7 separate regions of the Homo sapiens genome follow, and all the other regions are linked to region 4. Evidence: fine-mapped expression QTL. A gene starts in region 4. Each other region holds a variant in brackets. All regions are shown on one strand. Distances are from middle to middle.

The links.
Region 1: its variant is fine-mapped to the expression of LINC00662 in cerebellar hemisphere (GTEx, PIP above 0.99). The same link has a PIP of 0.9 or more in kidney cortex, nucleus accumbens, stomach, sun-exposed skin and vagina.
Region 2: its variant is fine-mapped to the expression of LINC00662 in whole blood (INTERVAL, PIP above 0.99).
Region 3: its variant is fine-mapped to the expression of LINC00662 in whole blood (TOPMed, PIP above 0.99).
Region 5: its variant is fine-mapped to the expression of LINC00662 in tibial nerve (GTEx, PIP above 0.99). The same link has a PIP of 0.9 or more in adrenal gland, cerebellum, fibroblasts, gastroesophageal junction, ovary and subcutaneous fat.
Region 6: its variant is fine-mapped to the expression of LINC00662 in visceral fat (GTEx, PIP above 0.99). The same link has a PIP of 0.9 or more in ileum and thyroid.
Region 7: its variant is fine-mapped to the expression of LINC00662 in whole blood (INTERVAL, PIP above 0.99).

The regions. Positions count from the first base shown.
Region 1 is chr19:27,739,214-27,743,280 of GRCh38, forward strand. No RefSeq gene overlaps it. Among named protein-coding and RNA genes, the nearest start is that of LINC02987, 52 kb to the right of the region's middle. The variant T/C (reference allele first, on the strand shown) is at 1,629.
Region 2 is chr19:27,489,965-27,494,031 of GRCh38, forward strand. No RefSeq gene overlaps it. Among named protein-coding and RNA genes, the nearest start is that of LINC02987, 300 kb to the right of the region's middle. The variant TC/T (reference allele first, on the strand shown) is at 2,433.
Region 3 is chr19:27,443,236-27,447,302 of GRCh38, forward strand. No RefSeq gene overlaps it. Among named protein-coding and RNA genes, the nearest start is that of LINC02987, 350 kb to the right of the region's middle. The variant T/G (reference allele first, on the strand shown) is at 1,962.
Region 4 is chr19:27,792,286-27,796,352 of GRCh38, forward strand. LINC00662 (long intergenic non-protein coding RNA 662) reads right to left here and starts at 1,655. Exons shown (of 3, transcript NR_027301.1): 1 at 1,247-1,655; 2 at 715-947. It overlaps LINC02987 (long intergenic non-protein coding RNA 2987), which reads left to right and starts at 1,146. Exons shown (of 7, transcript NR_146733.1): 1 at 1,146-1,324. RefSeq lists enhancers at 1,388-1,867, 3,034-3,815.
Region 5 is chr19:27,843,257-27,847,323 of GRCh38, forward strand. The region is part of intron 1 of LINC02987 (long intergenic non-protein coding RNA 2987); the gene reads left to right. Among named protein-coding and RNA genes, the nearest start is that of LINC00662, 51 kb to the left of the region's middle. The variant C/T (reference allele first, on the strand shown) is at 1,834.
Region 6 is chr19:27,868,088-27,872,154 of GRCh38, forward strand. All of the region lies in intron 1 of LINC02987 (long intergenic non-protein coding RNA 2987), which reads left to right. Among named protein-coding and RNA genes, the nearest start is that of LINC00662, 76 kb to the left of the region's middle. The variant T/C (reference allele first, on the strand shown) is at 1,642.
Region 7 is chr19:27,658,259-27,662,325 of GRCh38, forward strand. No RefSeq gene overlaps it. Among named protein-coding and RNA genes, the nearest start is that of LINC02987, 130 kb to the right of the region's middle. The variant CAAAAAAAAAAAA/C (reference allele first, on the strand shown) is at 2,352.

The sequences.
Region 1 (4,067 bases), 53 kb before region 4:
CTCTATCATTAGACTGCCTGGGGTCACAGAGGTGTCTCTATTATTAGAATGCCTAAAGTCTTTTGGGAGTCTCTCTCATTAGAATGCCTAGAGTAGCCCAAGTGTCTTTATCATCACACTGCCTGGGGTTGGTTGGGAGTCTCTTTCATTAGAATGCCTGGGGTGTCCCAGGAGTCTGTATAATTAGACTGACTGGGGTCAGGAAGGAGTCTCTCCCATTAAAATGCCTGGGGTAGACCAAGTGTCTCTATCATTAGACTGCCTAGGTACTGCCAGGAGTATCTCACATTAGAATGCCTGGATTGGACCAGGAGTCTATCCCTAGACTGCCTGAAGTCGAATAATAGTCTCTCACCTTAGAATGACTGAGGTAGCCAGAAGTCTCTCCAATTAGAATGGCTGGGTTCGCCCAGGTATATTTATCATTAGACTGCCTGGATCTTCCTGGAGTCTCTCTCATTAGAATGCCTGGTGTCAGTCAAGAGTCTCTCCCATTTGAATACCTGGGGTCACACAGATGTCTCTATCATTACAATGCCTGGGGTCACCCAGGTGTCTCTATAATTACAATACCTCGGGACGATCGGTAGTCTCTCTTATTAGAATGCCTTCGGTCACCAGGTGTCTCTATCATAATACTGCCTGGGGTCACACAGGAGTATCTCTTATTAGAATGCCTGGGGTTGCCCAGGTGTTTCTATCATTAGACTGCCTGGAGTCAGCTAGAAATCTTCCCCATTAGAGTGCTTGGGGTCACCCATGTGTCTCTACCCATAGACTGCTTGGGTCAGCCAAGAGTCTCTCCCAGGTTTCTCTCTCATTAGACTGCCTGGTGTCAGACAGGAGTCTCTCTCAATCGAATGCCTGGTGTCAACGGAAAGTTTCTCCCATTAGAGTGCCTGGGTTCTCACAGGTGTCTCTATCATTGCAATGCCTGGGTTGCCCATGTGTCCCTATCATTAGAAAGCCTCATGTCTGCCAAGAGTCTCCCGCATTAGAATGCCTGCAATCGCCCAGGTGTCTCTATTATTAGATTTCCTAGGGCTGGCCAGGAATCTATCCCATTAGAATGCCTGGGGTCCCTTAGGTGTCTCTATGCATAGATTGCCTGGTGTAGGCCACGAGTCACTTCCATTAGAATGCCTTGGGCCGGCTAAGTCTCTCCTACTAGAATGCCTCAGGTCACCCAGTGGTCATTTTAATTAGACTGCCTGGGGTCGTCCAAGAGTCGTTATTATTAGAGTGTGTGTGGTCACCCAGAGGTCCCTATCAATGGACTCCCTGGGTTCAGCCAGGAGTCTCTCCCATTAGCATGCCTGGGGCCACCCACCTTTCACTTCAATTAGACTGCCTGTGGTTGGCCAAAAGTCTCTCACATTAGAATGCCTGGGGCCACCCAGGGTTTTCTATCATTAGACTGCATGTGGTCAGCCAAAAGTTTCTCCCATTAAAATTCCTGAGGTCCCCCAAGTGTCTCTATTATTAGACTGCCTGGGTTCGGCTGGGAGTCTCATATTAGAATGCCTACAGTCACCCAAATTTCCCTATCCTTAGACTGCCTGAAGCCAGACAAGAGTTTCTCCCATTAGAATCGCTGGAGCTTGCCAGGAGTCTCTCACATTAGAATG[T/C]CTGGGGTCACTCAGGTGTCTCTATCATTAAAATGATTGGGGTGGCCCACTTGTCCCCATCATTAGATTGTCAGGGTTTGGCCAGGAGTCTGATTAAAATGCCTTGGGTCGCCTGGGAGTCTCTTTTATTAGAAAGCGTGGGGTCGCTTAGGTGTCTCTTATTTAGACTGCCTGGGGTTTCCCAGGTGTCTCTATCATTAGACTGCCTGGGGTTGCACAGGTATCCCTATCACTAGAATGCCTGCGGTGGTCTGAGAGTCTTTCCCATAAGAACACCTGGGGTCACCCAAGTGTCTCTTTCATCACACTGACTGGTGTTGTCTGGGAGTATCTTTCATTAGTGTCTCTAACATTAGATTGCCTGGGGTCGTTGGGGAGTCTCCTCCATTAGAATGACTTGGGTGGCCCAAGTACCTCTATTTTTAGACTGCCTGGGGTGGGCTGAGAGTCTCTCCTATTAGAATGCTTGTGGTCGCCCAGGAGTCTGTATAATTGAGCTTCCTGGGTTCGACCAGGGCTCTCTCCCATTAGAATGCCTGGGGTCGCCCAGGAGTCTCTATCCTTAGACTTTCAGATGTCAGATGAAAGTCTCTTTCATTAGAATGCCTGGGGTCGCCAAAGTGTCTCTATAATTAGACTGTCTGGGTTCGGCCAGGTATGTATTTCATTAGAATGCCTGGGGTCGCTTAGGTGGTCTGTATGCATAGACTGCTTGGAGTCAAACAGGAGTCACTCCCAATAGAATGCTTTCGGTCAGCCGAAAGACTCTCCTATTAGAATGCCTGGTGGCACCCAGGGGTCTTTAATTATACTGCCTGAGGTCGTCCAGGCGTCTTTCTCATTACAATGCCTAGGGTCACCCAGATGCCTCTATCATTAGACTGTCTGTGGTCATCCAGGAGTCTCTTTCACTGAAATGCCTGCGGTTGCCTATTTGTCTCTATCATTAGACTGCCTGGGGTCAGCCTAGCAATAAATGAAAGTTTAAGCTATACTAAACCCAGGGTTGGTTAATTTCATGCCAGCCACTGCGGCCATTAGTCTCTCCCATTAGAATGCCTGGGGTCACCCAAGTTTCTCTATAATTAGACTGTGTGAGGTCAGCCAGGAATCTCTCCCATTAGAATGCCTCCAGTCACCCAGGTGTCTCTATCAACAGACTGCTTGGGTCAGCCAGGAGTGTCTCCCATTAGAATGCCTTGGGTCAGCTAGGATTCTCTCTTATTTGAATGCCTGGGGTCGCCCAGGTGTCTTTTTAATAAAACTGCATGCAGTTGGCCAGGAGTCTCTCCCATTAGAATGCCAGGAGTTGCCCATTTGTCACTTTAATTAGACTGCGTTTAGTCGGCCAGGAGTCTCTCCTATTAAAATGCCTGTGGTAGTCCAGGTATGTCTATCATTAGACTGCCTGTGCTTAGCCAGGAATCTCTCCATTAGAATGTCTGAGGTTAGCCCTGAGTCTGTAACATTAGAATACCTGTGGTTGCCCAGGTGTCTCTATCATTGAAATGCTTGGGGTTGCCCACTTGTCTCTATCATTAGAATGCCTGGGGTGGGCCAGAAATCTCTCTCATTAGAATGCCTGTTGTCACCCAAGTCTCTATCCATAGACTGCTTGGGTTGGCCAGGAGTCTCTCCCATTAAAATGTCTGGGTCTCCCAGTTTCTCTATCATTAGACTGTCTAGGGATGACTGGAAGTCTCTCCCATTAGAATACCTGGGTTGCCCACGTGTCTCTATTGTTAGACTGCCTGGCATCAGACAGGAGTCTCTCATTAGAATGTCTGATGTCAACCAAAATTCTCTCCCATTAGAATGCCTGGGGTCTCACTGGTGCCTAAATAATTACAATGCCTGGGGTCTCCCAGGTTTCTCTATCATTAGAATGCCTCGGGTTGGCAGAGAGTCTCTTGCATTAGAATGCCTGCAATCGCCCAGTTGTCTCTATCCATAGACTGCCTGGGGTCAACCGTAAGACTCTCCCATTATAATGCCTGGAATCGCCCAGGTGTCCCTATGCATAGACCGTCTGGGGTCGGCCAGGAATCTCTCTTATTAGAATGCCTGAGGTCGCCCAGGTGTCTCTATCAATAAACTGCCAGAAGTCTCCCCCATTAGAATGTCTGAGATTGGGTAGGAGTCTCTCTTATTTTAATGCCTGGGGTCACCCAGGTGTCTATTTAATTAGACTGACTGGGGTCGGCCAGGGGTCTCTCCCATTAGAATGCCTGGGATCACCCAGGTATCTCTATCATTAGACTGCCTATGCTTAGCCAGTTGTCTCTCCATTAGAATGCCAGAGGTTGGCCAGGAGCCTCTCACATTAGAATTCCTATGGTCACTCAGGTGTCTTTATCCTGAAAATGATTGGAGCCACCCACTTGTCTCTATCATTTGAATGCCAAGGTTTGGCCTCGAGTCTCTCCTATTAGAATGCCT
Region 2 (4,067 bases), 300 kb before region 4:
ATAAAAACTAGAAAGAAGCTTTCTGAGAAACTGCTTTGAGATGTGGGCATTCGTCTCACAACGTTAAAACTTTCTTTTGATTGTGTAGTTTGTAAACATTGTTTTTGTAGAATCTACGAAGGGATATTTGGGAGCACATAAAAGCATATGGTGAAAAAGGAAATATCTTCAGATAAAAACTAGACAGAAGCTTTCTGAGAAACCATTTTGTGATGTGACATTCTTCTCATAGAGTTAAACCATTCTTTTGGTTGAGTAGTTTGGAAACTGTTTTTTTTAGAATCTGTGAAGGGATATTTGGGAGCCAATTGAGGCCAAGGGTGAAAAAGGAAATATCTTCACATAAAAACTAGAAAGAAGTTTTCTGAGAAACTGCTTTGTGATGTGTCCATTCATCTCACAGAATTAAAACTTCCTTTTGAATGGGCAGTTTGGAAACACAGTTTTTGATGTATCTGTGAAGGGATATTTGGGAGCGCATCAAGATCTATGGTTAAAAAGGAAATATCTTGGGATAAAAAGTAGAAAGAAGCTTTCTCAGAAACTGCTTCGTGATGTCTGCATTCTTCTCACAGAGTTAAACCTTTCTTTTGATTGAGCAGTTTGGAAACACTGTTTTTGTAGAATCTGTGAAGTGATATTTGGGAGGGCATTCAGGCCTATGGTGAAAAAGGAAATATCTTCAGATAAAAACTAGAAAGAAACATTCTGAGAAACTGCTTTCTGACGAGGGCATTCATCTCACACAGTTAAATCTTTCTTTTGGATGAGTAGTTTGGAAACACTGTTTTGGTAGGATCTGAGAAGAGATACTTGGGAGCACATTGAGGCCTATGCTGAAAAAGGAAATATCTTCATATAAAAACTAAAAAGAAACTCTCTAGGAAACTGCTTTGTGATTTGTGCATTCATCTCACAGAGTTAAATCTTTCTTTTCATTTTGCAGTTTGGCAACACTGTTTTTATTGAATCTGTGAAGGGACAATTGGGAGCACATTGAGGTCTATGGTCAAAAAGGAAATATCTTCAGATAAATACTAGAAAGAAGTTTTCTCAGAATTGGCTTTGTGATGTGGGCATTCTCCTGACAGAGTTAAACTTTTCTTTTGATTTAGCAGTTTGGCATCAACGTTTTTGTAGAATCTGAGAAGGGGTGTTTGGGAGCACTTTGAGGCCTACGGTTAAAAAGGGAACATCTTCAGATAAAAACTAGAAAGAAGATTTCTGGGAAACTGCTTTATGATTTCTACCTTCATCTCTCAGAGTTAAACCTTTCTTTTGATTGAGCAGTTTGGAAACACTCTTTAGGTAGGATCTGCAAAGAGATATTTCAGAGCGAGTTGAGGCCTATGGTGAAAAAGGAAATATATTCAGAAAAAAACTAGAAGGAAGTTTCTCAGAAACCGCTTTGTGTTCAGGGCGTTCTTCTCACAGAGTTAACCTTTATTTTGATTGAGCAGTCTGGAAACACTGTTTTTGTAGAATCTACAAAGGGATATATTGTAGTGCTTTGTGGTCTACAGTAAAAAAAGAAATATCTTCAGATAAAAACTAGAAAGAAGGTTTCTGAGAAACTGCTCTGTGAAGTGTACATTCTTCTCACACAGTTAAACATTTCCATTGATCAAGCAGCCTGGAAAGATTGTTTTGGTAGAATCTATGAAGGGATATATGGGAGTGTATTGAGGCCTATGGTGAAAAAGAAAATATCTTCAGAGAAAAACTAGAAAGAAGCTTTCTGAGAAACTGCTTTGTGATGTGTGCATTCATCTCACAGAGTGAAACCTCTCTTTTGACTGAGCAGTTTGGCAACAGTGTGATTGTAGAATCTGAGAAGGGATGTTTGGGAGTGCTTCAGGGCCTATGGTGTAAAAGGAAGTATCTTCAGATAAAAACTAGAAAGAAGCTTTCTGGGAAACTGCTTTGTGATGTGTTCATTCATCCCACAGAGATAAACCTTTCTTTTGATTGTGCAGTTTGGCAACACTGTTTTTGTTGCATCTGTAAAAGGACACTTGGAAGTGCATTGGGGTCTATGGTGAAAAAGGTAATATCTTCAGATAAATATGAAGCAGTGTGGGAAATCTATTTTTATGGAATCTGTGAAGGGACATTTGGGAGTGTATTGAGTCCTATGGTGAAAAAGGAAATATCTTCAGATAAAAACTAGAAAGATGCTTTCTCAAAAACAGCTTTGTGATGGGTGCATTCTTCTCACAGAGTTAAATCTTTCTTTTCATTGAGCAGTTTGGAAACACTGTTTTGGTAGACTCTGCGAAGGGATATTTTGTAGAGCTTTGAGGCCTATGGTGAAAAAGGAGATAACTTCAGATTAAATTAGAAAGAAGCTTTCTCAGAAACAGTTTTGTGATGTGTGCATTCTTCTCACAGAGTTAAATATTTCCTTTCATTAAGCAGTCTGGAAACACTGT[TC/T]TTTTTTTTTAAATCTAGGAAGGGATATATGGGAGCACATTGAGGTCAGTGGTGAAAAAGGAAATATCTTCTGAGAAAAACTAGGCAGAAGCTTCCTGAGAAACTGCTTTGTGATGAGTGCATTCGTCTCACAGAATTCATACTTTCTTTTGATTGAGCAGTTTGGCAACACTCTTTTTGTAGAATCTGAGAAGGTATATTTGGGAGTGGTTTGAGGCCTATGGTGAAAAAGGAAATATCTTCAGAGGAAAACTAGAAAGAAGCTTTCTCAGTAACCACCTTCAGATGTGTGCATTCATCTCAGAGAGTTAAACCATTCTTTGAGCAGTTTGGAAACACTGTTTTCGTAGGATGTATGAAGGGATATTTGGGAGCGCTTACAGGCCTATGGTGAAAAATAAATATCTTCAGATAAAAACTAGAAAGAAGCTTTGTGAGAAACACTACTTTGTGATGAGTAAGTTCATCTCACAGAGTTAAAATTTTCTTTTGATTTTTCAGTCTGACAACGGTGTTTTTAAAAATCTGAGAAGGGATATTTGGGAGTGCTTTGAGGCCTATGGTGAAGAACAATATATCTTCAGATATAAAATAGAAAGAAACATTCTGGGAATCTGCTTTGTGATGGGTGCATTCTTCTCACAGAGTTAAACCTTTCTTTTGATTGAGCAGTTTGGAAACACTGTTTTTTTAAAATATAGAAAGGGATAAATTGGAGCACACTGAGGCCAGTGGTGAAAAAGGAAATATCTTCAGATAGAAACTAGAAAGCAGCTTTCTGAGAAAATGGTTTGTGATGTGTGCATTCATCTCATAGAGTTTAACCATACTTTTCATTGAGAAGTTTGAAAACACTGTTTTGGTAGAATCTGCAAAGGGATATTAAGGATCGCTTATAGGCCTCTGGTGAAAAATTAAATATCATCAGATAAAAACTAGAAAGATGCTTTCTGATAAACTGGTTTGTGACGAGTGCACTCATCTCAAAGAGTTAAATGTTTCGTTTGATTGAGCAGTTTGGAAACAGGGACTTTGGAGAATCTAGAAGGCATATTTGGAAGCACTTTGAGGCCTAAGGTCAAAAAAGAAATATCTTCAGATAAAAACTAGAAAGAAGCTTTCTGGGAATCTGTTTGTGATGTGTGCATTTATGTCACAGTGTTAAAACTGTCTTTTGATTCAGCAGGATGGAAAGACTGTTTTGGAAGAATCTGCGAGACACATTTGGGATCACTTTGAGACATCTGTTGAGAAAGGAAATATCTTCAGGTAAAAACTAGAAAGAAGCTTTCTGGGAAACTGCTTTGTGATGTGCATATTCTTCCCACAGAGTAAAACCTTTCTTTGATTGAACAGTCTGGAAACACTGTTTTTGTAGAGTCTATGCAGGGATATACGGGTGCACATTGAGGACTATGGTGAAAAAGGAAATATCTTCCAAGAAATACTAGACAGAAAATTTCTGAGAAACTGCTTTGTGATGTGTGCATTCATCTCACAGAGTTAAACCTTTCTTTTGATTGAGGAGTTTCCAAACCCCGTTTTGGTACTATCTGTGAAGGGATATTTGGGAGGGCATTCAGACCTATGGTGAAAAAGGGAATACCTTCACATAAATAGTAGAAAGAAGCTTT
Region 3 (4,067 bases), 350 kb before region 4:
CATTCATCTCACAGATTTGAAACTTTCTTTTGATTGAATAGTTCAGAAAGTGTCTTTTTGTAGAATCTGCAAAGGGATATTTTTGAGCCCTTTGACGTCTATGGCAAAAAAGGAAATATCTTCACATAAAAATTAGACAAAATATTTCTCAGAAACTGCTTCATGACATAGGCATTCATCTCACAGAGGTAAACGTTTCTTTTCATTGAGCAGATTGGAAACTCTCTTCTTCTGGATTCTGCAAAGAGATATTTGCGAGTGCTCTAAGGCCTATGGTGAAAAAGGAAATATCTTCACATGAAAACTAGACAGAAGCTTTCTGAGAAACTACTTTGTGATGTGTACATTCATCTCAAATAGTTAAAGCTTTCTTTTGATTGAGCAGTTTGGAAACACTCTTTTTATAGAATCTGCAAAGGTATATTTGTGAGCACTTTGAAGCCTATTATGAAAGAGGAAATATCTTCAAATGAAAACTAGGCAGAAGCTTTCTGAGAACCTTCTTTGTGATGTGTGAATTCATCTCACATAGTTGAATTTTTCTTTTGATTGAGCAATTTCGAAAAAGTGTTTTTGTAGCATCTGCAAATGGATATTTGTGAGCCCTTTGAGGCCGATGGTGAAAAAGGAAATATCTAAACATAAGAACTAGGCAGAAGGTTTCTGAGAGACTGCTTCTTGATGTGGGCATTCATGTCACAGAGGTAGACATTACTTTTCATTGAGCAGATTGGAAACCCTCTTCTTGTAGAATCCGCAAAGTTAGATTTGGGACTGCTTTCAGGCCTGTGGCGAAAAAGGAAATATCATCACATAAAAACCAGACAGAAGCTTTCACAAAAACTTCTTTGTGATGTATGCATTAATCTCAAAGTGTTGAAACTTCCTATTGATTGAGCACTGTGGAAACAGTTATTTTGTAGAATCTGCAAAGGGATATTTGTGAGCTCTTTGAGGCCTATGGTGAAAAAGGAAATATCTTCACTTGAAAACTAGACAGAAGATGTCTAAGAGACTGCTTCGTGATGTGGGCATTCATCTCACAGAGGTAAACATTTCTTTTCAACTCTCTTCTTGTAGTATCCACAAAGGGATATTTGTGACCGTTCTGAGGCCTGTTTTGAAAAAGGATATATCTTCACATAAAAACTAGGCAGGAGGTTTCTAAGAGACTGCTTTTTGATGCGTGCATCCACCTCACACAGGTAAATGTCTCTTATCATTGAGTAGATTGGAAACTCTTTTCTTACAGAATCTGCAAAGGGATATTTTTGAGCACTTGGAGGCCTATGGTGAAAAAGTAAATATCTTCACATAAAAACTACAAAGAATCTTTCTGAGAAACTTCCTTGTGATGTGTGCATTCAGCTCACAGAGTTGAACCTTTCTTTTGATTGAGCAGATTGGAAACAGTCATAACAGTCCTTGTAGAATCTGCAAAGGAATAGTTGTGAGCGCTTTGAGGCCTATGGTGAAATAGAAAATATCTTCACATAAAAACTAGACAGAAGATTCCTGAAAAACTCCTTTGAGCTGTGTGCATTTATCCCACAGAGTTGAACCTTTCTTTCCGTTGAGCAGTTTGGAAACAGTCTTTTTGTAGAATCTGCAAGGGGATATTTGTGAGCGCTTGAGACCTATGGTGAAAAAGACCTATCTTCACATAAAAACCAGAAAGAAGGATTCTGAGAGACTGCTTCCTGATGTGAGCATTCGTCTCACAGAGGTAAACATTTCTTTTCACTGAGCAGATTGGAAACTCTCTTCTTGTAGTATCCACAAAGGGATATTTGTGACCACTTTGAGGCCTGTGGTGAAAAGGGAAATATATTCCCATAAAAACTAGACAGAAGATTTCTGAGAAACTTCATTGTGATGCCTGCATTCATCTCACAGAGTTGAAACTTTCTTTTGATTAATCAGTTTGGAAACAGTCTTTTTGCAGAAGCTGTAAAGGGATA[T/G]TTGTGAGTGGTTTGAGTCCTATGGTGAAAAAGGAAAAATCTTCACATAAAAACCAGACAGAAGATTTCTGAGAAACTTCTTTGTGATGTGGCATTTATCCCACAGAGGTGAACTTTTCTTTCAATTAAGCAGTTTGGAAACAGCCTTTTTGTTGGATCTGCAAAGGGATATTTGTGAGCCCTTTGAGGCCATTGCTGAAAAGGGAAATAACTTCATAGGAAAACTAGACAGAATCTTTCTGAGAAACTGCTTTGTGATGTGTGCATTCATCTGACAGAGTGGAAACTTTCTTTTGGTTGAGCAGTTTGGAAACATTATTTTTGTAGAATCTGCAAAGGGATATTTGTGTGTGGTTTGATGCCTATGGTGAAAAATAAAATATCTTCACATAAAAACTAGAAAGGAGCTTTCTGAGAAACTTCTTTGTGACGTGCGCATTCATCTCACAGAGTTGAAACTTTCTATGGATTGAGCAGTTTGAAAACAGTCTTTGTGTAGAATCTACAAAGCGATATTTGTGAGCTTGTTGAGACCTATGGTGAAAAAGGAAATATCTTCATATAAAAACCAGACAGAAGCTTTCTGAGATACTTCCTTGAGATGTGTGCATTCATCTCACTAAATAGAACCTTGAGTAGTTTGTAAACAGTCTTTTTGTAGAATCTGCAATCCGATATTTGTGAGCCCTTGGTGGCCTATGGTGAAAAAGGATATACATTCACATAAAAACTAGGCAGAAGGCTTCTGAGAATCTGATTTGTGATGTGTGCATTCATCTGACAGAGGTAAATGTTTCTTTTCATTGATCAGATGGGAAACTCTCTTCTTGTAGAATCTGCAATGAGATACTTGTGAGTGCTTTGAAGCCTATGGTGAAAAAGTAAATATCTTCACATAAAAAGTAGACAAAAGCTTTTTGAGAAACTTCTTTGTGATATGTGCTTTCATCTCACACAGTTCAAACTTTCTTTTGATTGAGCAGTTTGGAAAAAATCTTTTTGTAGAAAATGCAAAGGGATATTTGTGAGTGGCTTGAGGCCTATGGATGGAAAGGAAATATCTTCACATAAATACTAGACAGAAGCTTTCTGAGAAACTTCTTTGTGATGTGCACATTCATCTCACAGACGTAAACCTTTCTTTTCATTGTGGAGATTGTAAACTCTGTTCTTGCAGTATCTGGAAAGGGATATTTCTGAGCGCTTTGAGGCCTGTGGTGAAAAAGGAAATATCTTCACATAAAAAGTAGACAGAAGCTTTCTGAGAAACTTCTTTGTGAAATGTGCATACATCTCACAGAGTTGAGCCTTTCCTTTGACTGAGCAGTTTGGAAACAGTCTTTTTGTAGAATCTTCAAAGGGATATTTGCGAACACTTTGAGGTCTATAGTGAAAAAGGAAATATCTTCACATAAAAACTAGAGAGAAGTATACTGAGAAACTGCTTTGAAATCTGTGCATTCATCTCACAGAGGTTAACCTTTCTTTACATTGAGCAGATTGGATATTATGTTCTTATAGAATCTGAAAAGGCATATTTTTGAGTGCTTTGAGTCGTATGGTTAAAAAGGAAATATCTTCACATAAAAACTAGACAGAAACTTTCTGAGAAACTTCTTTGTGATATGTGCACTCATCTCACAGAGTTGAACCTTTCTGAGTAGTTTGAAAATAGTCTTATTGTCGAATCTGCAAAGGGATACTTCTGAGTGCTTGGAGGGCTGTGGTGAAAAAGGAAATATCTTCATATAAAAGCTAGAAAGAAGTTTTCTGTAAAACTTTTTTGTGATTTGTGCATTCATCTCACAGAGGTGAACAATTCCCTTGAGGGAAAAGTTTGGAAGCAGTCTTTTTGGAGAATCTGCATAGGGATATTTGTCTGCCCTTTGAGGTCTGTTTTGAAAAAGTATATATCTTCACATGAAACCTCGACAAAAGCTTTCTGAAAAACTGCTTTGCGATGTGTGCATTCATCTCACAGAGTTGAACTTTTCTTTTTATTGACTAGTTTGGAAACAGTTTTTTTTCGTGGAATCTGCAAAGGGATATTTGTGAGTACTTTGAGGCCTAGGGTGAAAAAGGAAATATCTTCACATGAAAACCAGA
Region 4 (4,067 bases):
AATATTAAAATTCATAAAATGTGTGAAGAAATGTAACATGCAAACTATACACAAGATAAAAAGCAGGCAGCAGAAGCTATTTCTAAGATGTCCGAGATGATGTAATCAGCAGACAAGTATTTCAGGGCAGCTATTATAAGTACGTTCATGGGGGTAAAGGAAAATATTCTCATAATGAATTAACTCATGTAGAGTCTCAGCAGAGACATGGAAATTATAAAAAGAGTAAAATAGAAGACAATAAAATAATAAAATAAAAAGAACTTTTAGTTTACAGAGTAGAAACAGAAGACAGCAATATAAACCATCCAATCTGAAGACTGAAACAAGTTTAAAGAAAATGAAAAGAGGCCTAAGAGACCTGTGAAATGATTGAGTCTGAGACAGAGAGGGAGAGACAGAAAAATTAAATATAATACAAAAACAAATAAACAATAGCTGAAAATTTAAAAACTTGGTCAAAACCGCAAATTCTTATATTCAAAAGGTGAACACACTCCAAAACAAAAACAAAAACAAATAAAACCATATCGAGGCCCTACTGTGATTTAGAAAACTGGCAGAGCAAGATTTTCCAGGGAGTTGCTATGATTTCTCATTTTCACTATTTATAATAATGGAAAATATGCACTCCTTAGTTTTCTTCTTGGAGAAAGTCTGACTTGTCAAACACAGATGACTTTTCAGTTTAGTTTTCAAGGTTTAATTTCTTACCTTGGAAATCAATTAAATTTGTTTCTTTAAAATGTCGCAGTAAAATTGCTCCTCCAGACAGATGTCCACGGAGATTCTGTCCTGCTGCGTCCGCCTTTCACAGAACTGAGGTTGTTCCTACACCAGTTTCAGAAGCGTGTAGGCACGCTTTATTACAGTGGCAGCAGCGTCCCTGTGCGAGGTCTAACCCAGGTGTGGGCCCTGCAGCCAGCCCGGGGGTCCAATGGGTCCTCCTATGGAGCACAGGAAGAATCGTGGCAGGCCAGAGATAGACAAAAGGTGGCTTTTAAAAGGGAAGTGTCAGGTTACCAGGGACTGGGTACTTTTACACGCGGACCTTCGGCCCTGCCCATAGAAAGGGGCAGCACTGCGCATCTCTGAAGGAGTGTGGCAAAGGGTGGGGCAATAAGAAGGGTGGGGCAGAAAGGAGTGGCCCCTCAGGAGGAAGGGGCGGGGAGATCCCAGCTACTAGAGGACGCCCGTTCCAATGGCAACTCTGCCAAGGCGCCTATGAGAGCCTCTTGGCTTTTACCTGGTCTGCGAGAAATCAAACTTTGGGCACAAGTCATGAAGCCGACAAGCCCGGGAGACACAGTGTCAGAATTACAAGGTGAGATCAGCCGCCCGGCCAAGCTATCTTCTCGCTAGCAGGTGAGGCCCGTGAACAGCCAAGCTCCCCTTGGCACGGCGGAACCGCAGTGGACGCGTGGAGGGGCTCCGTAGAGGAGGGACCTTTGCTTGGGATGCGGGGAGCTGTAGTCTCTTATCTGCACCCAGCTTGTTAGTTGTACGCCTGCAGGACTACAATCTCAGCACAAAGCAGGATTGTAGGGCGGTGCGGATCCCTGGAGGGAGACAGCGCGGTGCGCTCCTGCCGGCCATGCTGGCTGGGGTGGTGTCTTAGGCGGTTCCAGCCGTTAGTCACAGGGCGGCCGGACTACAATCCCAGCATACAACGGGAGTGGAGGTGGTGACCTTGAGAGAGGGCCTGTGCTGTGCGCGCCTCGCGGGGCATGCTGGGAGCAGTAGCATCTTAGCTGCTTCCGGCCGCTGGTCGCAGGGCTGCGGGACTACAATCTTCGCATGAAATGGAAGAGAGGGTGGTGCGGATAGCTTGAGGAAGGTACGGATACCTTGAGGGAGGTATGGATACGTTGAGGGAGGTACGGATACGTTGAGGGAGGTTACGGATACGTTAAGGGAGGTACAGCAGCGGTGCGCGCCTTGCAGGGCATGCTGAGAGGAACAGTTTTTTAACTGCTTCTGGCTGTTGGTGGCAGAGCTGCGGGACTACAATCCCAGTATGCTACGGGAGTGGGGATGATGCTGGTCCCTTGAGGGGGGGGGGCAGCGCGGTGCCCTCCTGCCGGGCATGCTGGTAATAGTGTCTTAGCTGCTTCCGGCCGTTGGTCGCAGGGCTATGGGACTACAGTCTCAGCATGCGCAGGGTTCAAGGGTGTTGCGCAGCCCCGCAGGGAGGGGCAGGGCGGTGTTGACCTCTGTTTCCAAACCCATGCTGGCTACTGAATCTGTGCCACCCCTGGCTAAGGGGAGTGAGTCCATAGAGGGACTTGAAGGGCAGGTCTGGGCTGGGCAGTGAGGAGAGTATGATACTGCAAAGTGCGCCTCGCCTTTGCCAAAATCGGTCGGGTCTCAGGCTCACCCCACCTCCCGCTGCTCAGTTCCGTTTCCCTCCAGAGCATCAAGCCTCCTCCCGCCCAGGGGGCCTCCTGCTTTCCTAAGCTGCTGTGGAATCGGCCTGAGGTCCCAGACGCTGTCCATTGTGCTGCTGCTCTCTGCTTTCTCCAGCCAGAGTGCCAGTTCATCCGCTTTTGGGAGAACTCCGCCGCCTGGCCTGCCCGCGGAAAAGGTCACAGCTTTGCAGGGGGTGACATGGGCTATGGCTTCCTGGAAATGTCACCCTCACTAGCGCCTTTTAGATAGATGTGAATTTTGAGACATGAGGGAGAGTAATTATTGGTTTACCCAGGAGATGCTAAGAGCAGAGGAGAAAACCCTAATTTCCAGGCATGTGTCCTGAGCCAGGGACAGGCTGGCCAGACCCTAAGCCCCCAGTGCCGCCAGAGAGCAGCCTACTGCCCTGATTTGTGTGGAATCCCCTTCGTGCTGCTGGGCCTTAGCGTCAGGGACAGCCCAGTCAGGTGAAGGTGGGGATGACCCATGGGCTTCTGGAAGTGGGTTGGTGGTCCTGGGAGGGCCAGCCCATCCCCCCTTGGAGAGGGTCTTTGTGCTGAAGGATGCCCACAGAGGCCTGGGTACCAGGAACACTGCTCTAGGCAAGGTGCCTTTCTTCCAGATTTGGCTGAAAGGAAGGAAGACTTGGTCAGCTTTTCCACCCAGCCATCTGGCCCTTACAGGGCTGCTCCCCATGGACCTGGGTTTGTAGAGTCCTCCAGGGCTTTGTGTGGCCCACTAGTTCTGATACTGAGGACACCCCTGCAGGCTGTTAATTTCAGAACAAGGGGTGTGTGCAGACTGGGGCATGGGTGCTGTCAGGGTACCCCAGGCTGCTCCAGGGACGGTACCCCAGTGTTCAACTTGGCTTGGGGCCCCCTGCCTCATGCCCTTACTCCAGGGCTGCTTGGCCTGGGCTTGAGCCATGGTCCAGAACTCAGGTGGCCCCATTGCCACCTAATATAAGGGCCTGTCTCCACAGTGGGTGAGACGCCCCTGGGCACTGGGCTCTTCAGTCATCCAGGGCTATCCACTCCATGGCATGAGTTCCCACATTCAGCTGAACTCTGTCTGGCTCTGGACTGGGGTCCCTCCTGTGCCCTTTCCCTGAATCCTCTCTGGGTCCGAGACACTGATCCTCTTCACTCTCTGGCTTAAGGCTTGTTCTCCTGACCTCCTTGGAGGGGTGCTCAGGATTGAGGACCCCTGCTGTTCTCTGGGGCTGTTGGTACTCGGAGGTGTGGGTGTTGGCTTGCACTGAGAAGTCCAACCCCTTCAGTGCCCTTCAGGGGTCCTTTAAGAGCAGGAGTGATAGGGTGTGGGGGAGTGCCTTAGAGGGGTCTTGCCCTCATCCCCTGCCCTGTCTCTGAGACGTGTCCAGTAAACCTGAGGTCAGCACCTCAGGAATGAAATAATGTCTTTTGCAGCAACTTGAATGAAGCTGGAGGCCATTATTCCAAGTGAAATAACTCAGGAATTAAAAATCAAATGCCATATGTTCTCACTTATAAGTTGGAGCTAAGCCATGCGTATGCAAAGGCATGCGGGGTGACATAATGGACTTTGGAGACTCAGACATGAGGGTGGCAGGTGGATGAAGGATGAAAAAACTACCTGTTGAGTACAATATATACTACTCAGGTGACAAGTGCACTAAA
Region 5 (4,067 bases), 51 kb after region 4:
TTTTTAGGAAGGTAGAGATAGGCTGACTATTAAGGCTGCTGATGCCAGGGTCATGGCTTGGGACCTGGGGGAGAGTTGAAGTCCTAAGCAGGTCACCATAGGGGTGGAAAGCAGTGCTTTGGAGGGGGAGACCCTATGGCCTTTATTAGTAAGGAAATTGAGAAGGGTGGCAGCATGAGTTTGGGAGATTTTTAAGGAGGGGCTACAGAGGAGGAGGTCATCTACATATTGAAGAAGGCAGCTGGAGGAAAGATTTAAGGAGGTGAAGTCTTGGGCTAGGGCTTGCCCAAAGAAATGAGGGCTATCCCTGAAGACTTGAGGGAGGACAGTCCATGTGAGTTGTTGTGACTGGAGAGTGTTGGGGTCAGTCTGGGTGAAAGCAAAGAGGTTTTGGGAATCAGGGTGTAGGGGAATGGTGAAGAAGGCATCTTTCAGGTCAATTGTTGTATAGTGGGTGGTGTTGGAGGGGACAAGAGAGAAAAGTGTATAGAAGTTAGGGACTACAGGATGAATAGGGAGGACAGCCTGATTGATAGCTCGGTGGTCCTGGATGAGTGGTATGAGCCATCAGATGTTTTAATAGGGAGGATGGGGGTGTTATACGGAGAGTGTGTTGGTCTAAGAAGACTGCATGAGCAGAGCTTGTTTATGATGGGTTGTAAGCCCTTTTGGTATGTTAGGGAAATGGGGAATTGGGGAACATTGGGAAATTTAGAGGGTTGTTTTAACTGGATTTTGATGGGGTCCTAGTGAGCAGCTATGGAAGGGGTGGTGGTGTCCACACTACTGGATTAATGAGGGAGGCGGCTAGCGGGTGCTGGGGAGGAGGGATCAGAGGCTGGACTAGCAGAGAGGAGCAGGAGAGACTCTGGTTGAGGGGGACAGAAAAAGTTGATAGAAGCCTTGAATTTGGCTAAAATGTCTCGGCCTAGGATGGGGGTGGGGCAATGAGGCATGATAAGGAAGGAGTGTGAAAAAACAGTATTAAATAGGGAACAAGTAAGGGATTCAGTAGTGCATGGACATGAGAAGAGTACATCAACCCCCACAACAGAGACCTGGGAAGGGTAAATGGGTCCTAAAAATACAAGTAAAGCCGATTAGGTGGCTCCACTGTTGATTAAAAAAGAGATCGGTTTACCTGCTATTAGCAGAGTTACCCTGGGCTCCAATGCAGTGACGGCAGATGGGGCCGGGGGCCCTGGGCTCTGTCAGTCTCCAGCAGCCAGGCCAAGGAGGTGTGGGAGTGTGAGTGACTCTTCACTCTTTGATTTGCCAGGGCTTTGAGGAACCGGCCTGTTAGTCTACTTGTTAAGAGGACAATCAGACTTCCATTGACTGGTTTGTTGGCAGGCTGGGCAAGGAGTTTTTGGTATTCGTGGGTTAGGGCATGTTCAGGCCTAATGGCCTTCTTTGCCACACTTAAAACAGGGCCCAGGAGGGTCACTGCTATTGGGTCTTTTGAGCCTCTGGGCAGCCTGGGTAGATAGCTGCTGCTAGGAGCTGGTATTTAGCCTGATCTTGTTGGGCTTTATTTAATTTATTTTGCCCATCTCTGTTGTTGAAAACCTTGAAGGCCAGGATAAGAAGGTCTTGTAGAGGGTTTTGATGGCCATCTTCTACCTTTTTGAGCTTGCGCTGTATGTCAGGAGCAGACTGAGAGATGAAATGGGTATTAAGAACAATAGTTCCTTCCTGGGAGGTGGGGTCAACACTGGTGTATTTTTGGAGGGCCTCTGTAAAGCGGGAAAGAAATTTGGCAAGATTTTCATTGGCCCTTTGGGAGATTTTTTTTTTTGAGTTTTTTAAAGTTTACGGCCTTGTGGGCAGCTT[C/T]GTTAAGGCCTGCAATAAGGAAGTGATCATGTGGTTATGAGATGCCAGCCGGGCTCTGTGGGTTGGTACTCCCAGGAGGATTTTTCCCGGGGAAATGCAGCAGCCTTTATGGGCTTAGGAGGGTCTTGCCAATGAAGATCGTCAGCATGTGCCTGAGCTGCAAGCTGCACTCTTTTCTTTGTTTTTCTGGGAGGAAAGTAGAAGAAAGGATAATATAGAGATCATGCCAAGTGGGTTTATAAGATTGAGTGAGGTATTTGAACTTTTTGATGTAAGTGTCAGGATTGGAGGAAAAGGACCTGAGACCGTTCTTAATTTGGGAAAGGTTGGAGAGGGAGAAGGGAATGTGGATGTGAACGAATCCTTTAGCCTCAGCCACCTCTCGGAGGGGAAGTAAGGGGGCCGACTGTTGGGCATGCTGAGTCCGAGAGCAGGTATGAAGTGGAGATGGGGAGCAATCAGAATCAGAAGTTGGGTGGTTAGGAGAGAGGAGGGGAAAGAGGTAAGGCAGGAGCGGGAGCATATGGTGGAGGATTGTGATGATTTGGGGGAGGATTATGGTGTTGTCAGAGAGAAGGAAAGTTGGCAGGGTCAAAGAAGGAGGAATTGTCACTAGGAGTGGTGGAGGGGGGTGTTTGAGGATGGGTCGGGTTTGGAGCAGGCGAGGAGGATTTGGAAAGTAGAGCAGGACTGACAGAGGGAGGGACGGCTACAGAGGGCAAAAAAAAGCCTGAACATAAGGGATCTCTGACCACTTTCCATTGCGATGGCAGAAGTTGTCTAGGTCCCTGAGAATGTTGAAATTGAAAGTGCCATTTTCAGGCCATTGGGAGCCATTGTCTAGTTTATATTTTGGCCAGGGAGTGTTACAATAAAAGATGAGGTTTTTTTGGCCAAATTTTGGAATGGAGGATAAGGGCATTAATGTTACAGAGGAGATACCCAAGGGGCGGGGGGGGGATGTCTTTGAGGGAGTGGATTGGGAGGCTCCCTTAGTGAAATGAGAAAGGGAGGGGTAGAGACAGGAGACTTGGCTAGAATGGTGGGAGAAGGCATCCCTTGTCCCACGGTTCAAGTCGGAGAAGTGCGATAATCCTCCGTTCAGGCATCCCCGAAAGGGAGATACCAAGGGCCTAGAGGCCGGGAGGAGGAAACCCTTGGCCCAGTGCTAGGTCTTTCAGGAAGGAAAGAGTAGACAAGGGTTCCAGACCGAAGGCAAAAGTCTCCTTTACTCACCCCTGAGGTGGTCCTGGTGTCGGATGTGTTCACCAAGCGATGGAAAGGCTGTATGAGATCCTTGGGTCTCTAGCAGGTTCTGGAAGGGGTAGTTCGGCCGGGGGAAGAATGGAGGGAAGGAGAAAGGGAGAAAGGGAGGCCAAACTCTACCACCTTCCTGAGTTTCAGCACCAGAAATGTAAGGTCAGCTGAGAGAAAGGATGAGGAGACCCAAAGTCAGACAAGCAAGCTTTATTGAGCTGCTTGGCTGCTCCATCACAGTTAGAGGAGGCAGCCCCACTTACAGACTATAGCAGGGTTTTACAGGGCCAGAACCAGGTCAGGGTCGGGGAGCTGAGTCGGGGCAGGAGAACTGGGTCCCAGTAGAGGAGCTGAGTTGGGGATGCAGGTGTCTCAACTGCATCCTGGAGATGTTTTTTGCCAGCTTTGTTATGCGAGGTTAAGAGATATGTTAACCGCATCCTATAACTGTCTGGACAAACAGATACTGGAGGGCTCAGTGAAGGCAGGGGTTTGTCTTTTGCCCTGGGGTAGCTGTGTGGAGAGCACAAGGGAGTGTATTGTGAGGCCTGTGGGAGGGGAAGGGTCTGGTCGGGGTGACCCTAACAGGGAGTTTTTTCAGACCCCCAATTAAACTTATTTAATCTTAAATGGTCCTGTTAAGAATTCCCTCATCATCTTGTCATGCTCCAAGGCAGGCCCAGGAAAGTCCTAGTGAAAACTCTTGGTGGACTTTTGCGACATTCCACCCTTTGCAAGAGTGCACTGGTTCTCTCAGCTTTTAATATTTAACTTAGCCACTTGGTCAGTACTGAAACGGTTGTTGCAGAGGCCCGCCTTAGTTAGTGAGACCTGGCCTGCCACACACACAATGGGGCAATCTCGGCTTGCTGCAACTTCTGCATCCTGGGCTCAAGTGATTCTCCTGACTGGGCCCCTCCAGTAGCTGGAACTACAGGTGCCCGCCACTGCCCCCAGCTGGAGCTACACTAACTAAT
Region 6 (4,067 bases), 76 kb after region 4:
CAGTAGCAAATGGCTCTTCCTTGCTGTGGTTTGGGGGACATTGGCAGGTGGTGAGTATTATTCTATTCAGGCCTCTTGCCTAACTTGGTTTTAGAAGGCATGAGGTTCTTTATGGTTCTATGTCTGTGGGTAAGGCTGCAGCTGCTGATTATGCTAATTCTTGCTTCCTTGCAAATAGCCAACTCCTTATTTTGTGCATTGCCAGCTATCAACAGAGACATTTTAGGAATAATTTTCATGTTAAAGGCAGGCTTTGTTGTAGTGTCCTACTGTGAACTGTCCCAGCATTAGACCCATCAGAGGTTTGTGAAGAGAGCTCTGATGTTAGAACAGTGAGCACAGTACTCTGCCAATTTGCCCATTACCTCTTCTGTCTCCCCTAGCAGGAACTACTGTCTGGCTTTCTCAAGAGGAACATGAATTGCTGCTCTAATGGACTGTTCATGGATTTGAGATCTTATTTTAGTTAGGGAGGTTGAGACTTTCATGGCTTCATAATTGATGCTTGAGAAAACATTCTTTCTAATTGGAAATTCTAACAATCTCCATAAAGCCTGTTTTGCTGTCCCTAAGGCTTTGAATGCATTCTTGTTTGGTAATCAGAATGAAAACAAACTTTTCAAAGCAAATAATTGTGTTTTTTTGTTGTTGTTTGTTTGTTTTTTGAGACGGAGTTTTGCTCTTCTTGCCCAGGCTGGAGTCCAATGGTGCGATATATGCTCACTGCAACCTCTGCCTCCTGGGTTCAAGTGATTCTCCTACCTCAGCCCCCTGAGTAGCTGGGATTACAGGTATGCACCACTATACCCAGCTAATTTTGTGTTTTTTAGTAGAGACGGGGTTTCTCCATGTTGGTTAGGCTGGTCTTGAACTCCTGACCTCAGGTGACCTGCCCACCTTGGCCTCCCAAAGTGCTGGGATTACAGGCATGAGCCACTGTGCCCAGCCAATAATGGTGTTCTTGACCTTTATTTTGGGTTATATTCTATTTATATGTTATAATCTAAATTTAATTTTATTTGATTTTGTGGAAGAAGTAGAGAAAATTAGTTTGCTTTTTAATTGATATTACTTTAAATGAAAAAGGAAACAAGTTAGTAAATCTAAGAGCATTTAATTTTCACTTTTTTTTCTTACCATTGTCTCTGCTTAGCCATCTTTTTAGTTATTAGATGAATTAGGATACTTTTTGCATGAGAAATACTTTGACACTCATGTATATCAATGAAAGTGTGCCTCTGCTTTTGATTTTGGTTTACTACTTAAATTACTCTTGAATTATGCTGACAAGATCCATCTCAAGTTTCTCAAAGCATAATGTGAGGAGAGAAAAAATTCTACATGCTTGGGGTTTCCTTGAAGGAAACCACAAAATCCCTGATGCCTCAATGAACATGCAGACCTCCCAGGCTGCCTAAGCATAGAATGTTAATTCTGAACACCTAATTTCTTCCAGATCTTTCCCTCCCCGCTTACGTGGGGCAGATATCAACATATAGTAATTTATTTAAAGAAGTATCTGCTCACTGCTATCTTTGGGTCAATGCTTGTGCTAAGCTCTGAGATTACAGGGATAGGTTAACTAGATTCCTCCTTAAATGAATTAAGACTTAGAGCAAAAAAATACAAATAAGTAATAAT[T/C]GCCCTTAACTTTCTTTTGGGTGTGGTGAAAGGCAGCTGGGAAAGATCTTTAGTATCAGTGAGGGCATAGGTAAGCCTTCATTGCACACAGCATGTTGAGCAAGGGTCCCAAATGGGAATAAATGGGTGAAGAAAATTTCAGGAAAGAAAACAGATCATAGTTTAGAGAACCTGAATATTAGACTAACCTGGATTCAAATCCTGCCAGCACTGCACATTAGCTGTGTAACCAAACAAAGATCTTTACCATTCAACATTTGCTGGATACAAGGTTAATATACAAAATGTAATCACTTTCCTATATATCAGCAATAGATACCTGAAATTTGAAATTAAAACACCATAACATTTATATTAGCATCCCCCAAAATAAAATACTTGGCTAAAAATCTAACAAAGTATGTACAAGATTTATATAAGGAGAGCCATAAAACTATGATTTAAAAAATCAAATAATTGAAGAAATTGATAGATACTACATGTTTATGGATAGAAAGATTCAATATTGTCAAGACATTGGTTATTTCTAATTTGACATATAGACTTAACACAATTAAAATAAAAATCCCAACAAATTATTTCATGGAAATCAACAAACTGATGCTAAAGTTTACATGAAAAGGCAAAAGACCCAGGATAACCAACATTAGAAAAAATGAAAAGCCAGAGGACTGACACTACCCATGTTCAAGACTTACTATAAAACTACAGTAACCAAAAGAGTATGGTATTCATAAAAGAAGATAAAAAGAGATTAATGCAACAGGTTATAGAGCACAGGTATAGACCCACATAAATATAATCAAGGAGCAAAGGTAATACAATGAGGAAAAGATGGTCTTTTCAGTAAATAGCACTCAAACAACAGGATATACATATGAAAAGAATCTACAAACAGGCTTTACACTGCTTAAAATTAACTCAAAATGGATCATAAGACTAAATGTAAAATGCAAAACTGTAAAACTTCTGGGAAATAGCATAGGAAAAGAGATCTACACTACCTTGGGCATGGTGATGGCTTGTTAGATACAACACCATAGGCATGACCCATGAAAGAAACAATTGATAAGCTGGCCTTCATTATAATTTAAATCTTCTGTTCTGCCAAAGGTACTGTCAGTAGAAGGATAACACAAGCTATAGACTGGGAGAAACTATTTGCAAAAGATATATCTGATACAGTACTTCTATCTAATATATTTAAAAAATTAAAACTCAACAATAGGTAAAAAAGCTTAATTAAAAAACACAGGCAAAAGACCTGAACAGATACTTTATCAAAAATATATGTAGATGCCAAATAAGTACAAGAAAAGATGCCCCATATAATATGATATTAGAAGATTTCAAAATAAAATATCAATAAGATATGATTATACACAAATTACAATGGTCCAGATTCAGAACACTGACAACACCAAATGCTGGTAAGCACGTGGAGCAACAAGAACTCTCTTTCATTGCTGGTGACACAAAATGGTGCAACCACTTTTGAAGACAGTTTGACAGTTTCTTACAAAACCACACATAGTCTTATAAAATTCAGCAGTTGTGCCCCTTAGTACTTACCCAAATGTGTTAAAAACCTTATGCCCACCCAAAAACCTATGCACAGATATTTATAGAAGCATAATTACCAAAACTTGAATGATGAATGAACATTATATCTAGACAATTAAATCTTATTCAGTTATTTAAAAAAAGAACTATCAAGACATGAAAAAACATGGAAGAAACAAATACCTGTTGCTAAATGAAAGAAGCCAATCTGAAAATGCTACATACTGTATGATTTCAACTATATGATATTCTGGAGAAGACAAAACTATAGAAACAGTGAAACAATCAGTGATTTCCAGGGGTTGAGAGGAGGGAGGGATGAATAGGTGAAGCACAAACAATTTTTAAGACAGTACAAATATTGTAATGTGTACTATACATATACTGTATTATAGTATCATACTGCATTATATTCTGTATAATAATATAATAGTGGATACATGTCGTTATACATTTGTCATTAGAATGTACAACATGAAGAGTAAATTCTAATGCAAATTATGGACTTTGGGTAATAGTAAAATGTAAATATTGATTCATTAATTGTAACAAGACTGCCATGCTGGAGGGAAAAGCTGTGCATCTGTGAGGGAAGGGAGGATGTGGGACATATCTGTACTTTCCGTTCAATTTTGCTGTAAACTTAAATGGTCCTAAAAAATAAAATCTATTTGAAAGGGGGAAAAAGACATTTGAAATTTTAAACACATAATGAAAATGCCCAAATTGTGGTGATAAAATTTTCTGTATCTTGATTTTATTAATTTTAATATTCTGGTTGTAATATTGTACTAGAATTTTAAATTACTTTGTCCCAGATTTTTTAAAATAACTTCCCTGACCACATTATTGTTGGCCACCTC
Region 7 (4,067 bases), 130 kb before region 4:
TTTTGCTAATATTAGACTGCATGGTGTCAGGCAAGAATCTTTTCCATTAGAATGCCTGGGGCTGGCCAATAGACTTTCACATTAGAATGCCTGGAGGCACTCAGGTGTCTCTATCATTAGATTGCCTGAGGTTGGATGCAAGTTTCTCCAATTAAAATGCCTGGATTCGCCCAGGTGTCTCTATAATTGGACTGTCTGGGTTTGGCCAGAATTCTTTCCCATTAGAATACCTGGGGTGGGCTGGGCACGGTGGCTCACACCTGTAATCCCAGAACTTTGGGAGGCCAAGAGGGGTGGATCATGAGTTCAGGAGATGGAGACCCTCCTGGCTAACACAGTGAAACTCCGTCTCTACTAAAAACACAGAAACATTAGCTGGGCATGGTGGCAAGCACCTGTAGTCCCAGTTACTCAGGAGGCTGAGGCAGGAGAATGGAGTGAACCCAGGAAGCAGGGCCTGTAGTGAGCCAAGATCACACCACTGCCCTCCAGCCTGGGGAACAGAACGAAACTCAAAAGAAAAAGAAAAAAAGAAAAAGTAAAAGAAAAAGAACACCTGGTGTCACCTAGGTGTCTGTATCCTTAAACTGCCTGGAATAGGCCAGGAGTCTTTCCCATTAAAATGCCTAGGTTCGGCCAGGAGTTTCTCCAATTAAAATGCCTGGAATCAATAATGTATCTCTATCATTAGACTGCCTGAGGTCGGCCAGGAGTTTCTCCTATTAGAATGCCTAGTGTCAGCTGGCAGTCTCTTCCATGACTGGGATAGCCAAGGTGTCTCTATCATTAGAACGTCTGAGTTGGCTCAGCTGTCTCTATCATTAGAATGCCTGAGGTCAGCCTAAGGTCTCTCCCATTATAGTCTCTGGGGTCGCCCATGTGACTGTATCATTAGATTGCCTGCAGTCAGCCAGTGGTCTCTCCCATTAGAATGTCTGGGGTTGCACTTGGGTTCAGCCAGGTGTCTCTACTTTTAGACTGCCTGGGATAGGCCAGGATTTGTTCCCATTAGAATGCTTGAGTATGCCCAAATGTCTCTATCATTAGAATGCCTGGGTGTTAGAAATGCTCATTCCTTTGTGCTGAAAAGAAGAACTAGTGCTCAAAGAATGTTCTCAGCAAAGCAATTTTACTTTCTGCAGAAAGGGTGCTGTCCATCAGCAATCCTGCCACGAGAGCACAATGAACAAAGAAGGACAAGAATATGTATCCCTTATGCATTGGGTCCTTACTACTGTGTCCTATCTCCATTGGTGGGAGCTGGACCTCACAGTCTAAACTAAACCCGATTGACTAACAACTTAAACTTTCCTAAATAGGTAAAGGTAATGGAGAACAAAAGGAAAAGAGGAAGTTGCTTGCAAAAGAACTTAGAAAAGTAATATTTCCAAATAAGGAAGGGGCATAAGCTGTGAGATGGAACATGCTTGAGCGTGTCTAGAACAAATATCTTGGTTAAAGTACGAAGACATAGAATGTACTTATTCCCTCATGTCCAACAGCTACATAGGATAGGGTTTAATAAAGAGTTCTTAGTATTAAAGCAAGGAGGCTTGAAGGAAGTTAGTTTTTAAAAGAAACTATTATTTCTAACATTTGTTATTTAACAAGAAGGGAAACTTTGAAGAGGAACTTTCCACTTTCCACACTGGGGTTGGTGGAAAGTCTCTTCCATTGGAATGCATGGGGTTTCCCAGGTGTATCTATCATTAGACTGCCTTTGGTCTGCCTTGAGTCTCATCTGTTTGAATGCTTGGGGTCACCGAGGTGTCTCCATCATTAGAGTGCCTGGCCTTGGTCAGGAGTCTCTCCCATTAGAACGCCTGGTGTCAGCTGTGAGTCTCCTATTATGATGCCTGCAATTTCCCAGTGTCTCTATCATTAGACTGCCCAGGGTCAAGCAGAAGTTCCTTCCATTAGAATGCCTGGGTTCTCCCAGGTGTCTCTGTCATTAGGCCACTTGGGGTTGGCTAGGAGTCTCTCCTATGAATATGCCTGAAGCTGCCCATGTGTCTCTATCATTAGTCTGCCTGCGGTCAGACAGGAGTCTCCATATTAGAATTACTGGAGTCAGCCATGTGTCTGTATCATTAGAGTGCCTGCATTCGGCAAGAAATCTTTCTATTTAGAATGCCTGGGGTCAGCCTATTTAGAAATCTTTCTATTTAGAATGCCTGGTCTCTGCCATAATGATGCCTTGGGTCACCCAGGTGTCTCTATCATTAAAATGCCTGTGATCAGCTGGGAGTCTCTCCCGTTAGAATGCCTGGGGTTCCCAGGAAGCAGAGCTTGCAGTGAGCCAAGATCACACCACTGCACTCCAGTCTGGGTGACAGAGCAAGGCTCCATCT[CAAAAAAAAAAAA/C]AAAAAAAAAAAAAAAAAAAGAATGCCTGGAGTTGCCAAGGCATTTCTATTCTTAGACTGCCCAGGGTCTGCCAGGAGTCTCTTTAATTAGAATGCCTGAAGTCAGCCAGGAGTATTTTCACAGATAGCTTGTTTCTAGTTTTTATTGTTTGATATTCTGTTTTTCACTATAGGCCTCAATTGGCTCACAAATATCCCTTTGTAGATTCTACAAAAAAAGTGTTTTCAACCTGGTGAATTGAAAAATAGGTTACATTCTTTGATATGAATCCATAACTTAGCATTTTCACAGATAACTTTTTCTAGTTACTATCATGAAATATTCGGTTTTTCACTGTAGTCCTCAATGGGAAAGAAATGTTGATTAACAGATTCTTAAAAAAGGGTGTTTCCAACCTGTTGAATCAAAACAAAAGTTGAAGTCTGTGAGATGACTCCACATATCTTCAAAACATCATGACAGATAGCCTGTTTTTCATTCTTATCTCTAGATATGACTCCACACATCACAAAACATCCTCACAGATAGCCTGTTTTTCTTTCTTATCACTAGATATTTTGTCTTTCACCATAGGCCTCAATAACCTCGGAAATGTCCCATTGTAGATTCTACAAAAGATTGTTTGAAACCTGGTGAATCAAAACACAGATGTAATACCATGAGCTGTATCCACATATCACAAACCATTTTCACAGATAGTTTGTTTCTACATTTTACCACAGAATATTCGATTTTTCTCTATAGACCTCATTAGGCTAAGAAATGTCTCCTCATAGATTGTGCAAAAACAGCATTTACAAGCTGAAGAATCAAAACAAAGATTGAACTCTGTGAGATAAATCCACACATCCCAAAGTATTTTCAAAGATAGTTTGTTTTAAATTTTTATTGCAGGATATCTGGTTTTTCACTATAGGCCTCAGTGGGCTCAAAACTGTCCCTTTGCAAATTCTACAAAAAGAGTGTTACCAACCTGGTGAATCAAAACACCGGTTGTTTCAGTGAGATGAATCCACAAATCATTAAGGATTTTCACACATAGCTTGTTTCTAGTTTTTACCTTGGGATATTTGGCTTTTTACTATAGGATTTGCTGGGCTCAGAAATGTACCTTCATAGATTCTACAAAACGATTGTTTCCAACTCGTGAATCAAAACACAGGTTCTGTTCATGAGATAAATTCACAGATCATAAAGCATTTTCACAGATATCTTGTTTCAAATTTTTATGGTGAAATGTTTGTTTATTCACTATAGGACTCAATGGGCTCAGAAATGTTTCCTCGTTGAGTCTACAAAAAGATTGTCTTCAACCTGTTGAATCAAAGCAAAGGTTTAACACTTTGAGATGAATCTGCATGTCAAAAGCTTTTTCAAAGATAGATTTTTTTATAGTTTTTATCCCAGGATATTTGGTTTTCCACAATGGGTCTCAATGGGCTCAGAAATGTCCCTTTGCAGATTCTACAAAAAGAGTGTTTCCAAAGTGGCCAATCAAAACATAGGTTTAAATAAGTTAGATAAATCTATATATCACAAAGCATTCTCATAGATAGCTTGTTTATACTTTTATCATGAAATATTTCTTTTTTTACTGTAGGGCTCAATGGGCTGTTTAACAACAGGTCTCTAAGGCCTCAAAAATTTCCCTTAGTAGATTTCACTAAAATCTACTCCCAGCTGTCCCTTAGTAGATTTTACTA